2 separate regions of the Homo sapiens genome follow, and region 2 is linked to region 1. Evidence: fine-mapped expression QTL. Tissue or cell type: uterus. Region 1 holds a variant in brackets; the other region holds the start of a gene. All regions are shown on one strand. Distances are between the middles of the regions.

What was found. PIP is the estimated chance that this variant, and not a neighbour inherited with it, causes the effect.
Region 2: it holds the start of RPAP1, and the variant in region 1 is fine-mapped to the expression of RPAP1 in uterus (GTEx, PIP 0.99).

What each region holds. Positions count from the first base shown.
Region 1 is chr15:41,824,385-41,832,264 of GRCh38, reverse strand. It overlaps MAPKBP1 (mitogen-activated protein kinase binding protein 1), which reads right to left. Exons shown (of 31, transcript NM_014994.3): 30 at 7,696-7,781; 31 at 4,410-7,056. The coding sequence ends at 6,829. It overlaps JMJD7-PLA2G4B (JMJD7-PLA2G4B readthrough), which reads right to left and starts at 4,173. Exons shown (of 25, transcript NM_005090.4): 1 at 4,077-4,173. The coding sequence starts at 4,140. It overlaps JMJD7 (jumonji domain containing 7), which reads right to left and starts at 4,173. Exons shown (of 8, transcript NM_001114632.2): 1 at 4,077-4,173. The coding sequence starts at 4,140. RefSeq lists a silencer at 4,196-4,285 and enhancers at 4,020-4,314, 4,346-4,575, 5,621-6,503. The variant G/C (reference allele first, on the strand shown) is at 4,026.
Region 2 is chr15:41,540,688-41,548,567 of GRCh38, reverse strand. RPAP1 (RNA polymerase II associated protein 1) reads left to right here and starts at 4,311. Exons shown (of 25, transcript NM_015540.4): 1 at 4,311-4,349. RefSeq lists enhancers at 4,167-4,556, 4,490-5,071 and a silencer at 5,551-5,751.

The DNA.
Region 1 (7,880 bases):
TCATGCTACCGGCCTGGATCCCACACCTGCCAAGGGCGAGTGGGGCAGCGAGGGGTGTGTGAGCGAATGAGTGTGGGGTTTGGCCACTGCGCACAGCTAGGCATGTGGGCTGCGGTGGGGCAGGCAGCTTCAGGTGCCAACACAGGTGCTGGTTTCCTGCAAGGCTGCAGCTAGACCAGGTGTACCATAAGCAGCTTCCACAGCTGACACTGGGAAGCATGGTGGTGCCTGGAAGCTTGCAGATACCAGGAACCGCAGAGCCCTAAAGAGGGTGTCAGAACCCCAGCTTGGGAAGCTCCTGGGTCTGGACTCCCCAAAGGGCCGCAGTTCTTCTTTCCTTCTGGACACCCACAATGTGGCGAGCAAGACGCATGGTTCAGTCCTCTTCATGTTACAGCTCTTTTAGCCCCGCCACTCAGCAGGTCCCAATTCTTGTCCTGCATCCAGGAAGAATGAGGTACACACAGACAAGCAGAGGGTAAACAAGACAAAGAGGAGCTTTACTGAGCCATAGGATAGCTCAGAGGAGACCCACAGTGGGCAGCTCCTCTCCGCAGCCAGGGTGTCCCAACGAGTGTTCAGCTCTCAGCAAAGAGGATAGCTCCTCTCTCTGCAGGCAGGTAGTCCTGTTGAGTGTTCAGCTCAGCAGAGCTTTGTTCCAGCTGCTCACTCAGACTGGAGTGTCTTTCTGCTGGTTTTTATAAAGTGTACAGGGCTTCGCTTTGCTACATTCATGCTCTAGGTCGAGCCAAAAGGCCGTGGTTTCCATTTGGTGGTTACCACATCCTGCTCCAAATGGTCCCGGCACTGATGTTCACCTCTGAGGTCACACTGCATCTCTCACAGCCACACCATGCCAGTCACCTTTACTTTCTGATCAGTTGGAAAGTGAATGTTCTTAGATCAAATATTGTAACTGAGTGAGAAGACCCCACTGGGCCCAGGAATACTGGAAAAGAAAGAGCTGGCATGCCTGCTTGCTTCCCTGGCTAGAGTAGCTCCTCTCTGTGGGCAGGTTGTCCTGTCATCTCTCCAGCTCTCAGCAGAGAGGGTAGCTCCTCCCCGCAGCTGGTCGTCCCATCGTCTCTTCTGGTCTGGCTGAGTCAGGGGCTTTTTATGGGTCTCACAGGGGAGGAGGTACATGCCTATTGGTCCATGGGCAGCCATGGGTGGGCCGGAAAAAGCACCAAAAGTTCCCATTCCGGTCCATGGAACCGGCAGCCCAGCCCCCAGGCTTCAGGCCTTCCCTGGCTTGAAGGTCGGGCTTCACCGGGACCCGCCACCTTCCACCCAGGAACCTGTCTGCCTCTTGCCACCATTCACGGCACCCAAGCTGTTTGTGCCAAGGGGGTGCCTGCAGGCCAGCACTGAGCTGCCCTCAGCCCCTCTTGGCCTCCCTCCCATGCTCGTTGGCACCCAAAGGCCAGAGGGGGCCAAGGAGGCAGGGGGCTGGTGTGTCAGCACTGCAATAGCACCCAGGCTCGGCCTCAACTTTGCTCCATGATCTGATCAGGTGCTGACAGTGGGGAGAAGCCAGACAGCAGGATCAGGCACTTCCAAGCCTGCGGCAGCAGGAAGGGGCCTTCCTGGGTCCCCAAAAGTGCAGACATGCCTGGGTCCACAGCTGCAGCTTGGGAGGCTGCAGCTGCATCTAGGAGGGTGGGGCTCCTGCCTGCTCCTAGCTCCCAAGAGCACAGGGGTGCCTGAGTTGCAGTCCTGGCTTGGGTGGCTGTAATTGCGCCTAGGGAGCTCCCACTCCACCAACTTGGAAGGGGTGGGGCTCCCACTTGTCCCCAGTTCCCGCCAGCTCTGTGGAACATGTGGCCCCAGCTGCCTCTCCTCTTCACGTTTTCCCCACAGCGGCGGCGGGCAAGGTGCATATGGCATGGCAGCTCTGACCACCCCAAACAAATGAGCCTAGTAGTCCTGTGTTCCGGAAACAGTGAAGAAGCCAGTTTGCAGGAGCAGGGTCTTTGTGCACATGTGTGAGTATTTTTGTACTCACAAGTGCAAGTCCCTACAAGTCCCAGTTGCACCTTTGGCAGGGTGCTCGCAGGCTTCTGGGATGTGGCAGGGAGCGAGGTTCAGGCTGCAGCAGAGGGTCTGGGCTGAGGAGCAGGTCCTGCCCAGCCATGTGAGGGTGGGGGTGGTGCAGTCGGCTGCCTCGGGGATGCAGGGAACAGGGGACTCACTACCACCACTGCTGCTCCCAGAGCCACTTCTGCTGCCCGACTTGTGCCTCCCCACTGCAGCCAGCATGATGACAGCATCTGCTTCCAACTGCCCGCCACTGTCATCAAAACTGCTGGACTCAAACAATCCTCTTGCCTCAGGAGGTGGGACTACAGGCACATGCCACCACACGATGGTGTCTCACTATGTTGCCCACGCTGGTCTTGAACTCCTGGCCTCAAGAGATGCCTCCCACCTTGGTCTCCTGAAGTGCTAGGATTACAGGCGTGAGTACTGCACACAGCCTGGGATTCTGAAAATACATGGAAACTGCCATTTTTTCACCCTTTGGACTTCTGCAATTAGGGATTTGTTTTACTTGCTCACCATTTCCTTTAGAGAATGGCTGCTTTCCTCTCCTGGGGCTTCCAAGTGAGAAAATTTCAAAAGGGATCCAAACAATTGCTTTGACCCCATAACTCTGCTAAGAATTTAACAAGGCCGGGAGCAGTGGCTTATGTGTTCCATGGCGTTCCAAAACTTTGGAATGCTGAGGTGGAAGGATTGTTTGAGGAATCTGAGACCAGCCTTGTCTCTACTAAAATTCAAAAAAATTAGCCAGGCGTGGTGGCGCATGCCTGTAGTCTCAGCTACTCCCAGGTGCTGAAGCAGGAGGATCTCTTGAACCTGGGAGGTCGAGGTGCAGCGAGCTATGATCGTGCCACTGCACTCCAGCCTGTGTGACAGAGTAAGACCCTGTCTCAAAAAATATAAAGTATTTAACCAACAAACATACTCACACATGCGCAGAAGACGCTGCTCCTGCAGACTGGCTTCTTCACTGTTTCCTAAACACATCAGGCATACTCCCAAAGAGGGCTTTGCCTGCACTTACCTTCTAACCTACTTCTTCTACTCTACAATGTACTCATTCAGTACACCTGTGGTTGATTGTCCACGTTCTCACTTAGAATGTAACAGGACATAGACTGTAAAAGACAGATTTGTTTTGTTCAGTGATGTATCTCAAACACACTGAACAGAGCCTGGCACACAGAGATGCTGAATAAGTATTTGTTAAATCAATCCTCAAAGTATTCGTTGCAGCATTATTGAAAACAACGGATTGGACATGACCTAAATGACTAAGTGAATACAGCACTAGCACACAGACGTGAAAAAGACTGAGGTAGAGGAATGTGAAATGATCTCCAAGATACACGGTGCAGAAGAGTGTGTTTAGCAGGCTACTATTTGTACAAAAAAAGGGTAAAAAGTCGTGTGTGCACGGATATAAACAATCTTTCTGTAAGAATGCAAACTGGGGCTGGGAGGAAACCTTGCTTCATTTACATTGCGTACCACTGTATATTACATACCCATCACATACACATGAGCCTGTGTTGCTGTTCAGTGGTAAGAAATCATTTAAAAATAGAAAAAAGAAGGAAGGAGGGAAGAGAGAAAGAAAGAAAAGGAATAAAAACCAAGCAGGGGAAGAGCCAGGGACCATTTGGTCAGCCTGCAATCCTCCCAAAGTGCGACAAGGGAGTTGAGGTCGGAGGTGGGGCGCGTGGGGGAGGAATCCGACCACCAGCTGTGTGCCTTCGATGAGCTTTCAACAAGGGTAACAGCAAGCTGCTCAAGACTGTAGGAAACACAGGGCTTCGCCGCGACCACGGTCAAGACGGCACCGGGCCTTGGGAACAACGTGAACAGAATCACCCAGGAAGCCGCGGGAGCGCGCGAACACGGGAGAAGGGAAGCAGGTTGCCACAGAAGAGCAACCCGAGCGGGGCCTCAGGGCAGTCGCACACACGAGGTTCCGAGCCCCCGGTGTCAGCGGCATCCCA[G/C]GGCCCCTCCCGTGTTCGGAAATCGCCGCAGCCTGTGGGAGAGCCACTCACCCCTTGCAGCGGCCGGGAATTCTCGTAACTCGCTCCGCACGGCTTCCAAAGCCGCCTCCGCCATGGCTGCGTCAGCGCCGGCCGAGACCCCGCCTTTCCCCGACGCCCCGCCGCAGGCCACACCCCAAGCACTCGCCCCGCCCTCCCCAGAGTCCCCGCCGCAGGCCACACCCCCAGACCCTCGCCCCGCCCTTCCAGAGGCACCCGCCGCAGGCCACACCCCCAGCACCCCGCCCCGTCCTGCCCCTGGACACACACCGGGTTCTGCCACCGAAGCGGTGGAGCGACTGGCAGCGCCCGCTTCGGCCTGCCCCACTGGCCGGCATCCCAGGGTTAACAAACAATTGTGTTTATTGACAAGTTCATACATCAGTACAAACGGGCACGTTAAAAACAGCGCCCCCGCCCCATGCAGCCGAGGATGAGGCAGGAAGCGCCGCGACCTGCACAAAGTATAAAAGTTATAAATAAGGGGCTTTCAAAACAAGGCGGGGGCAAATCTGGAGTGGGGCGGCGGTTGCCGGTGGCCTCAGACATGCAGAAGGGGACGGGGCGCCGGCCGGGCCACGAGGCCCCCCACCCACATGGGGCAGAGGGCAGGAAAAGGGCGGCCACATTCTCACAAACTTCTGGCGAAGGGTAGCTCCCTCCTCGTGAAGGACCTGGCCCAGAGGGCGAACCTGAGTCCCACCTGCGGTGGGCGCGGCTGGTGTGGGAAGTCGGGGCACAGCAGGCACGGGCCCGCCCCCGCCGCCGCGGGAGTTCCAGGGCCATGCGGGTGGCGATGCTAGAGGAGTGGGGAAGGGCCAGGTTTGGAGCAGCTCAAGCGCACTCAGGCTGATGCCCCGGAGCTGGGAACCTTTTGTAACCCTTTTTCTTTTTTTTTTTTGAGATGGCGTGTAGCTTTGTCACCTAGGTTGGAGTGCAATGGCGCGATCTCGGCTCACTGCAACCTCCACCTCCACCTCCAGGGTTCAAGCGATTCTCCTGCCTAAACCTCCCGAGTAGCTGGGATTACAGGCGCCCACCACCACGCCCAGCTAATTTTTTTATTTTTAGTAGACAGGGTTTCACCATGTTGGCCAGGCTGATCTCGAACTCCTAACCTCAGGTGATCCACCCGCCTCGGCCTCCCAAAGTGCTGGGATTACAGGCTTGAGCCACCACACCTGGCCCAGAACCCATTTCTTTATAAGCCTCTGCCTATGGCGCAGCAGGGCGGGTGAAGGGGCTCTCGTGGCCTGAAGCTGTGGTAAAGCTGCTCTGACTTACCTGCAGCAGAGGGGAGCAGTAGGGCCCAGAAAAACCTTTCCTCAACTCTTCAACTGCCTCACGACATGGTCCCACTCTACCTCCTAGGGTCCCCTATCTCCTTTCCCTCACCCCTAATTACTGCCCTTTTACATTCTAACTTATCCCCTCACCTCTGCCACTTACCTGTCCCATCTACCACTTTTCTAGTGTCTCCTTTGGCCCCAGCACCTCCCTCCTCTCAAACTCCAGTATCCAGCACACCCGTGGGTGCCCAGCACTGCCTTTGAGGAGGCTCCTTCTACCTAAACCAGGTGTCCTATGGGCTATCTCGTATCAGCTAGGCTGTGGACACCAAGAATCCAGAATCTGGGTTCACTTAGTGTACTGCACCCCTTTTCTGCTCCCTGATAGGTGTTCCACATAAGCCAGGGTGGTGAAGCTGAGGCAGGATGTGAGGAAACCAGGCACACAGCAGCCAGCCAGATACTCTAGCAACCAACACTCAACAGCGTGCTGTGCAGGTAGGTGTGTGTGTGTACATGTGTGCACGTGCATGCGTGTGATCTCATCTGTGGCTGAGGTCCTCAGGAGGTAGGCCAGCGCCCCGTAAACGAGGGATGTTCCAACACAGGCTTCTGACTAAGCATCATTCAGGATGCAGGGAGAAGGTGGCCTCTGGGCTCCAGCAGCCGGCTGGGGTCCAGGGTGGAGGACAGGGAAGAACAAGGGGCTGAGGAAAGGAGGCCAGAGCTTCATGTTTGCCCAGGTGAGGGCTTACTGTCCTGCAGCAACATCCCACAGCTGGCTCAAGTTCTGGCCAGGAGAGTAAGGGGTCACAGGGAAATACAATGCTGGGCCCCTCTTGGAGGGAGAATGGGAGTGGAATGTGCGGGCTCAGGTCCAAATACCAACTCAAGTCTCCTGATGGCTGGGGACACCCTGGAGGGCCAGATGGCTCTGCCTTTCTGAGCTCCAGGTATTGGGGAAAACCACCCTGCTCTGGCAGCCACGGGAGTGCAGCTGGTGTGAGAGGGGAAGTGCAGGTAGAGGTGAAGGCCCACAGTTGGCTGACGGGCACTGAATACCACATCACCTCTCACCTCGACCCCAGAGTACCCTGTGTATGCTCCACCACAGGGAGCTAATCCCTGCAGTAATTTCAAATGGCTTCTAAGAGAGGGCCAGCCCTTCCCAGATTCCTAGATGGGGCAGGCTGCCCTCCTACCTCTCACAGCACCAAGATGACAAAGACCCAAGACCTGTCCCTGCCACTGGAGGGGCTGTGGAGGCAGGAGTTCCAAGGAAGTGAGGCAACAGTCAGGGAAATAAATTAATAAATACAGGCCCCCCACGAGGAGCGGCTGGGAAGGCTGCTTTGCCTCTGAACACTGCTCCCTGCTTTCCACTCCAAGCAGCCCCGCAGGTTTTGGTGAGGGGCAGAGGGGCTGCAGTTTGGAATCGCTGGAGCATTCATTCACTTGGGACAGGCTTCCAGAACTCAGAGTTTGCGTTCCATACGCCGTTCCACGGCTCGAAGCAACAGTTCTGAGTATTGCTCCAGCAGGGCCTGTGTCTGCTCGGCTCCCACAGCCCCAGGGCTGCTGCCTGGGCTGGACAGCACTGCCCCAGCCACAGCTTCCAGCTCCTGTCGCACTGAAGAGAAGGTGTCTCTGAGGAGCTGGGCAATCCGACTTTGCTCTGCTGAGGGCATCTTGCAGCCAGCCACCTGAAATAGCACCCCCAGAAGTGAGGTGGAGGAGCCTGTCAACAGACATATAAAAGGGAGGGGCCCCACCTGGGTCCAGCCTGCCTCAGAAGGGACTAGCTGGGAACTCTACCCGCCAAGATCAGCATGTATGGCCAGGGAACATGGGATGCAGGCAGACTCTGGGGGTGACGCCCAAGGAGGAACCCATTGGATTGCAGAACCGTCTACATCTTATAAGCAACTCCTTATGACAACTCCGGCAGAATCTGCTTTCTCTTTCAAAGTTTGGGCCTTCTTGGACTGTCCCCTATGTCTAAGGGGGCCAAATAATTCATGGATATGAAAAAGGATGCCATTAATAATTACACTGGGACAACGACATAAACTGGGATTGTCCTGAGCCAACTAGGAGGTGTGGTCTCTTCAGGCCTCACCTCCTGAGGGAAGTCTCCAGCTCTTAACCAGAAATGACCGCAGGTGCCCGGTACAAGAGGCTAGCCTGGCCTCTAACCCCCTCACCTATGCTGCCCAAGATGTTCTTGAGTGTGCCATCCTGTCAGCACAAGAGGCTTAGCATACTGTTCTGGACATGGTTATCCGAAACACCCAGCACTACTGACGTGCCCGCCTTCCTGCCGGGGGGCACCTAACACCCACCGAGTGGTAGAGCCGCACTGCCTGGCGCACGCTGCCGCGGAGCTCTGCCACCAGCTGCTCACACTGCTCCAGGCTCACCGCTGGCTCTGAAAGAGACGGATACAGCTCAGTGAGGCCCAGCATGTAGCCCTTTCAGGCCTCCGCACCCAAGACACTCAGAACAGGAGAGACCTAGCCCTCAGCAT
Region 2 (7,880 bases), 280 kb after region 1:
GCTGCATCGCTAGGACTATAGGTGCCACCACACCCAGCTAATTAAAAAAAATTTTTTTTATAGAACAGGGTCTTCCTACGTTGCCCGGGCTGGTCTTGAATTCCTGGCCACAAGCAATACTCCTGCCTCAGCCTACCAAAGTGCTGAGATTATAAGCATGAGCCACCACACCCAGTCTTTGAAACAAAAAAACATAGTCTTACCCAATAAAAATTTCATAAATCCTCGCTGGGTGTGGTGGCATGCACCTGTGGTCCCAGCTACTTGGGAGGCTGAGGTGGGAGGATCACTTGAGCCTAGGAGGTCGAGGCTGCAGTGAGTCATGACAGCACCACTGCACTCCAGCCTCGGTGACAAAGCAAGACCCTATCTCAAAAAAAAAAAAAAGTAAATCCTTAATATCATACAAAATCTAGTTTATATTTAGTATTCCCTAACAGTCTCAAAAAAACAGTTTCAAAAATGAAGATATAAACAAAGACCGCATTTCATATGTTATAGTCTCTGCCCAGTGCAGTGGCTTACACTTGTAATCCCAGCATTTTGGGAGGCTGAGGTGGGCAAATCACCTGAGGTCAGGAGTTTGAGACCAGCCTGACCAACATGGTGAAACCCTGTCTCTACTAAAAATACAAAAATTGGCTGGACGCAGTGGCTCACGCCTGTAATCCCAGCACTTTGGGAGGCCGAGGTGGGTAGAACACCTGAAGTCAGGAGTATGAGACCAGCCTGGTCAACATGGTGAATTGAAACCTTGTCTCTACTCAAAATACAAAAATTAGCCGGGCATGGTGGCATGTGCCTGTAACCCCAGCTACCTGGGAGGCTGAGGCAAGATAATCACTTGAACCCAGGAGGCAGAGTTTGCAGTGAGCCGAGATCACACCATTGCCCTGCAGCTTGGCAACAAGAGCGAAACTCCGTCTCAAAAAAAAAAGAAAAAAGTTAGCCAGGTATGGTGGCACACGCCTGTAATCACAGCTACTTAGGAGGCTGAGGCAGGAGAACCACTTGAACCCAGGAGGCGGAGGCTGCAGTGAGCCGAGATCATGCCACTGCACTCCAGCCTGGGCAACAGAGCAAGACTCCATCTCAACAACATAAAATAAAATAAATAATAAATAAATAGTCTCGGCTGGTGCAGTGACTCATGCCTGTAATTCCAGCATTTTGGGAGGCTGCGGCGGGTGAGTCACTAGAGCCCAGGAGTTTGACACCAGACTAGGTGACATGGCAAAACCCTGTCACTACAAAAAATAAAAGAATTAGCCACGTTTGGTTCAGGCCTGTGATCCCAGCTATTCAGGAGGTTGAGGCAGGAGAATCGCTTGAGCTCAGCAAGCAGAGGGAAGCAGAGGTTGCAGTGAGCTGAGGTTGCACCACTGCACTCCAGCCTGGGCAACAGAGCAAGACCCTATCTCAAAACAGTAGAAAAGATTCATCAGTAAGTTCATATAATGGCAACCTGATCCATCCATATAAAGTCTGCATCAACCTTTCACCTAGTTGTTAAACAATGACTGTTAAAACTATTAGGTCAAAGGTTGATGAAGACTTTATATGAGGCTGGGTGTGTTTTCCAACCTTAGCAGGCACCAAAATTAAGTGGAAGGCTTGTTAAAACAGAATGCTGGAGCTGGGGATGGTGGCTTATGCCTATAGTCCCAGCATTTGGGAGGCCAGATCACCTGAGGTCAGGAGTTCGTGACCAACCTGGCCAACATGGTCCAACCGTGTCCCTACTAAAAATACAAAACTTAGCTGGGCGTGGTGGCACCATTGCCAGGAGCCATTATCTCGTTATTTCATTGCGAACAATTATTTTCTACTATCATTCATTCTGCATATTTGGCTCCAGTTCCTCTCCCTCATCCCGCTGCCTCCATAACTTCTGACCAGGTCTAGTACTATTTTGGACCTCAAGATGACTAAATCCTAGTAGCCGAAATTTACATCTGTAGTTGAAGCCAAGAGGATTATAGATCTGCTATAGTGCGGGACCAGCAGCATCACCTAGAAACTTGGTAGAAATACAAATTTTGGGGCTCTATTAGAAACCTACTGAATCGGCTGGGCACGGTGGCTCACGCCTGTAATCCCAGCACTTTGGGAGGCCAAGGCGGGCAGATCACGAGGTCAGGAGATGGAGACCATCCTGGCTAACACGGTGAAACCCTGTCTCTACTAAAAATACAAAAAAGTAGCCCGGCATGGTGACAGGTGCCTGTAGTCCCAGCTACTCAGGAGGCTGAGGCAGGAGAATGGTGTGAACCCGGGAGGTGCAGGTTGCAGTGAGCTGAGACTGCGCCAGTGCACTCCAGCCTGGGCGACAGAGCGAGACTCTGTCACAAAAAAAAAGGAAACCTACTGAAACAGGCCAGGTGCAGTAGCTCATGCCTGTAATCCCAGCACTTTAGGAAGCTGACGTAGGTGGATCACCTGAGGTCAGGAGCTCGAGACCAGCCTGGCCAACATGGTGAAACCCCGTCTCTACTAAAAATACAAAAATTAGCTGGGCATGGTGGCGGGCGCCTGTAATCCCAGCTACTCGGGAGGCTGAGGCAGGAGAATCACTTGAACCCAGGAGGAGGTTGCAGTGTGCCGAGATCATGCTATTGCACTCCAGCCTGGGCGACAAGAGCAAGACTCCGTCTTAAAAAAAAAAAAAGAAAGAAAAAGAAAAACCTACTGAATCAGAAACTCAGAGGTTGAGGCCCAGCAATCTGTTTCGTTTTGTTTGAAACAGAGTCTGGCTCTGTGGCCCAATCTGGAGTGCAGTGGTTCCATCTTGGCTCACTGCAACCTCCGCTTCCCAGGTTCAAGTGATTCTCCTGGCTCAGCCTCTTGAGTAGCTGGGACTACAGATGGACACCACCATGCCCTGCTAATTTTTATATTTTTAGTAGAGATGGGGTTTCACCATGTTGGTCAGGCTGGTCTCGAACTCCTGACCTTAGGTGATCTGCCAGCTTCAGCCTCCCAAAGTACTGGGATTATAGGCATGTGCCACTGTGCCTGGCCCCAGCAATCTGGTTTAACAAGACTTCCAGTTGATTCTGGTGCCTGTTAAAGTTGGAAAGCCACTGGACTAACATTGGCTGCCCCATGATGTCCTTTGGTCTAGAAATGATTTACTTAAGGTCCTACTATGTGCATGGCAACACGTTGGGTGCTCAGTATTTAGATGCAAAGTACAAGGTCTGGTGCCCACAAGGAACTGACAGTCTATTCAAGGGAACAGGACATAAGCCTGTGAAAAGGTAACCGGTGACAGTTGGTAGTTGGCAGTGTGTTCTTAGCATACCACACAACTGGTGCAGGCGGTGAGATTCCAGGTGAATCCAAGGAAAGTTTGGTGAGTAGGCGTGGCTGGCAGAGGTTTTAGAGTTGACGCCAGCTAGGCCTTAAAGAGTTATCCTTTGGAGACAGGGGTGGCAGGGAAAAGAGGGAGGATTTCCAAGAAGGGAGAGTGGGATGAACAAAGGCAAGATTCTGGAGAAGATGATAACCTTGCTAGCAAGGAAGCTTTATTCCCTCTCTTCTCACCACCACTATTTCTGCAGTGCACACTGGCAGTGTTCTTTCCTTGGGCCTTTTTCATGGTTACCTTCTAGCTCTTCCATAAACACATTCGTCACGTTGGGGTGTGTGTGTGTGTCCACGTTTCTGTGTGCTGCCGTGGGCGTGGGTGCTGGGATGTGGGATGTGGTAACACTGGCTGGTGAGTGCAGAGGGACGTCTGAGGAACGCTGTGTCCCTGCCAGGGGTGTCGTAAGTGCAGAAGGGGCTGTGCCTGCTGTACATCAGAAGCATGTGTGGGCCAGGCGCGGTGGCACATCCTGTAATCACAGCACTTTGGGGGGCCGAGGCGGGCGGATTACCTAAGGTCGGGAGTTCGAGACCAGCTTGGCCAACATGGTGAAACCCCGTCTCTACTAAAAATACAAAAATTAGCCAGACGTGGTGGCGGGCACCTGTAATCCCAGCTACTCGGGAGGCTGAGGCACAAGAATCGCTTGAGCCCGGGAGGCGGAGGTTGCAGTGAGCCGAGATTGCGCCACAGCACTCCAGCCTGTGCGACAGAGCAAGACTCTGTCTCAAAAAAAAAAAAAAAAAAAAAGGATGTGTGTTCTGGGTGATGGTATAGAGCTTACGTGGGGGTAATAAACCGCCAGCCGCGCAGCACCGCGCTCACCAGTCCGCTGCACTGAACAAGCAAAGCCCAGAATGCTCCGAGATAAGACCGGGAGAGGCGGGGCTGGGCTGCGGGGCGGAAGCTGGAATCTGGCGGCGGCGGAAACGCGATCTCTGCGGGGCAAGATGGCGGCGCCCAGACAGGCCTGGAGCACGTAGGTGGCGGGGCTGGAGGGACGGATTTCAGGTGATCTGGGAGGAGGACCCAGGGTAGCGTGTCCAGTTTCTTTGCTGGAACCTGCCTGCGGGCCTTTGGTCTGTAAGGGAGCAACTGTGGCCTCCTCTGTGCATAGATCTCGGGCACGGCCCTTCAACGGGCGGCGAAAGCTGCGACTCGATGATTCCTCATTGTAGAGTTGGGTGGTCCAGGAGGCTTAACTGGAGCCCTTGACCTGAGCGGTAAGGGCAGTCACGCGTCCCGACTCGGGATTGGATCCTGGCTCTGGAGGATAGGCTGCAATGTAAGAGCCCCAGAGACTCCTCAGAGGCCAACATAAACCCAGAGGTCCATTGTTAGGACTACTTTTTTTTACGAGTTACTCTTTAGGCATTACTCTTTAGGATTACAGGCGTGAGCCACCGCGCCCGGCCAACCCATTCTTATTCTATTAATAACTGAAAATGTTATCACTTCTAGCACTGATTGGTTCTGGACAAATCTGCGCTGGATTTGTGGGGAAACACACTGGTGGCTTTACTTAGGACTAAAATAATTGTTACTGAGGTTTATTTATATAAGTAACAGGCACTGGGCTAGGCGTTTTGCGTGTATAGTCATTTAAATCCTCACACATTTCCTATTATATAGGACCTGTTACTCACATTTTACAGTTGTGGAAATGGGACTTAAGACAGCATAGAGGCCGCGCACGGTGGCTCACGCCTGTAATCCCAGCACTTTGGGAGGCCGAGGCGGGCGGGTCACCTGAGATCAGGAGTTCGAGACCAGTCTGGCCAACATGGTGAAACCCCGTCTGTACTAAAAAAATACAAAAAATTAGCCGGGCGTGGTGGCAGGCGCCTGTAATCCCAGCTACTCGGGAGCCTGAGGCAGGAGAATCACTTGAACCCAGGAGGCGGAGGTTGCAGTGTGCCGAGATCGTGCTATTGCACTCCAGCCTGGGCAACAAGAGGGAGAATCTGTCTCAAAAAAAAAAAAAAAAAAAAAAAAAGGACAGCATTGATAATTTGCCTAATTTCGCACATTTAGTGCATTTAGTAAGTAGCGGAACTGGTATTTGACTTCTGGCCTATTGATTCCAAAACTGGTGCCCATAACCCCCTGGCTCTCTTTGTGATGTAGGTATGGCGCACCCTATGAAGTGAGCTGGACTTTGCTTTTGGATCACATGAATCCATGGATAAGTAGGAATTGTTTCTGCTTATGTAGACTCTTATAGGAGTGAATTGTTACCATACTATGGATTCTCAGTTCATCTAGTTCAGCCTTCCTTAGGGCCTTTGGGTAGGCATTGGGGTAGGAGACTTTTTCCTTGTTTGTTGGTCAGACTGCCCAACAATTAGATATGGTTATCTGCCCTTTGGCTATATAAATAATAAGAATCATAACTGGCGTTTGTGTCCTTTCATGTATGAGACTCTGTTCTAATCTTCTTACATATATATAATTAATTCAGGAGGTAGGTACAGTTATCTTCATGTTACAGATGAGGAAACAAGCACAGTAACTTCAGTAAAATACCTTGCTTAAGCTTACACAGTTAGTAAATGGCAGAGCCTGGATTTGAACACAGGCAGTCCATTTTCATACTGTTTACCTCCCATCCAGGAAAAGGCACATCTGTATACTTCGCTGTTGTCATGCTACAAATAGTAATTAATACAAGTTCTATGCCAAATTTAAGATGAAATTTTGTAGACAGGTCTTTGCTCACTTCATCCACTTCCTTCAGTTCTCTACTTATCTAAGTTTTCTCTTTCAATATTGACCTCTATTTTTAACCTTTAGGGATTTTTCCCACCTCTGAAATCGTGTAGCACTGATCTTCTATGCAATTAATTTCATCACTGGGATGTACTGCCTTGTAAATTTATATGTGTGTTTACCATATTCTCTCACCCCAACTTTGGGTACATCATTGACCAAAGGAAGACCTTTACAATCTTGGAGACATCATTTAAACTGTAAACCTTTGGAATTTCTAGACTTGTGTGGGCAAAGAGAGATAATGAAGTGGGAAATTATTAAAAGACCCAGCATTTCGGCATGGTCTCTGTCTCCCCAGTAAGCCCCTTGAACCCAGGGACTGGATTTTACTCCCATTTCTTTATATTTACAGCCCCTTGTACACCGCTCAGCCCAGAGTAAACTCTCAAAAAATTTTTTGATAATGTTCTTAAGGTCACACCGTCATGTGATTGTTTCACCATTTCTACCCCTTTAGCCTGCCCCCAACCCCTGTGTTGGGAGGTGTTTCCAAGGCTGGCTTAGTTATTAGATCTGATCCTGCTTAGAAGTAGATGAAGAAAAAGTAAGGAAATGTGTCATTCAGCACTTTTTTTTTGAGACAGAGTCTCATGCTCTGTCCCCCAGGCTGGAGTGCAGTGGCACGATCTTGGCTCATTGCAACCTCCACTTCCCGGGTTCACGCCATTCTCCTGCCTCAGCCTCCCCAGTAGCTGGGACTACAGGCGCGTGCTACCACACCCAGCTAATTTTTTGTATTTTTAGTAGAGACGGCATTTCACCGTGTTAGCCAGGATGGTCTCGATCTTCTGACCTCGTGATCTGCCTGCCTTGGCCTCCCAAAGTGCTGGGATTACAGGCGTGAGCCAGCACACCCGGCCTTCATTCAGCACTATTGTTAGTTCCAGCTATCTAGCTTGTCTACCTCTCCATCTCATCCTCCTTCAACTTTTAGGAGGTGGTCAACTTCATCATGTTCTCCCATGTACCATATTTATTCCCTGCTTTTTTTTTTTTTTTTTTCAAGATGGAGTCTAGCTCTGTCACCCAAGCTGGAGGGCAGTGGTGTAATCTTGGCTCACTGCAACCTCCACCTCCTGGGTTCAAACCGTTCTCCTGCCTCAGCCTCCCAAGTAGCTGGGAGTACAGGCACATGCCACCACGCCTGCCTAATTTTTTTGTATTTTTAGTAGAGATGGGGTTTCACCATGTTGGCCAAGCTGGTCTTGAACTCCTGACCTCAGATGATCCACCCACCTCAGCCTCAAAGTGCTGGGATTACAGGTGTGAGCCACTGCGCCCGGCCCTATTCCCTGCTTCTATACCTTTGCCCAGCTCTCCCTTCTGGCTGGAGGCCTATCTTATCCTTCAAGGTCTGGTTCAGTGGTTTTCAACTGGGGGTGATTTTTTTCTGAGGTGACATTTGGCAATGTCTGCAGACATTTTTACTTGTCACAACTAGGGGAGGAGGTTTGATGATGACGTCTAGTGGGTAAAAGCCAGGAATGCCGCTAAACATCCTACAGTGCGCAGGACAGCTTCCCACAGCAAAGAATTACCCAGCTATAAAGATCAATAGTCCCTATTGAGAAACCTTAGTGTAGTTGCAGCCTTTGCTCTTCAGGAGATTCTTTATAGTTCTTCCCCATCTGCCTCACTATTCCAGACTTCCAGGACACCCAGGCACCACACAGCAGTAGGCAGTAGAACATAGTGGGTAAGAGCATGGACTGACTGGGATTGAATCCTAATCCTAGCA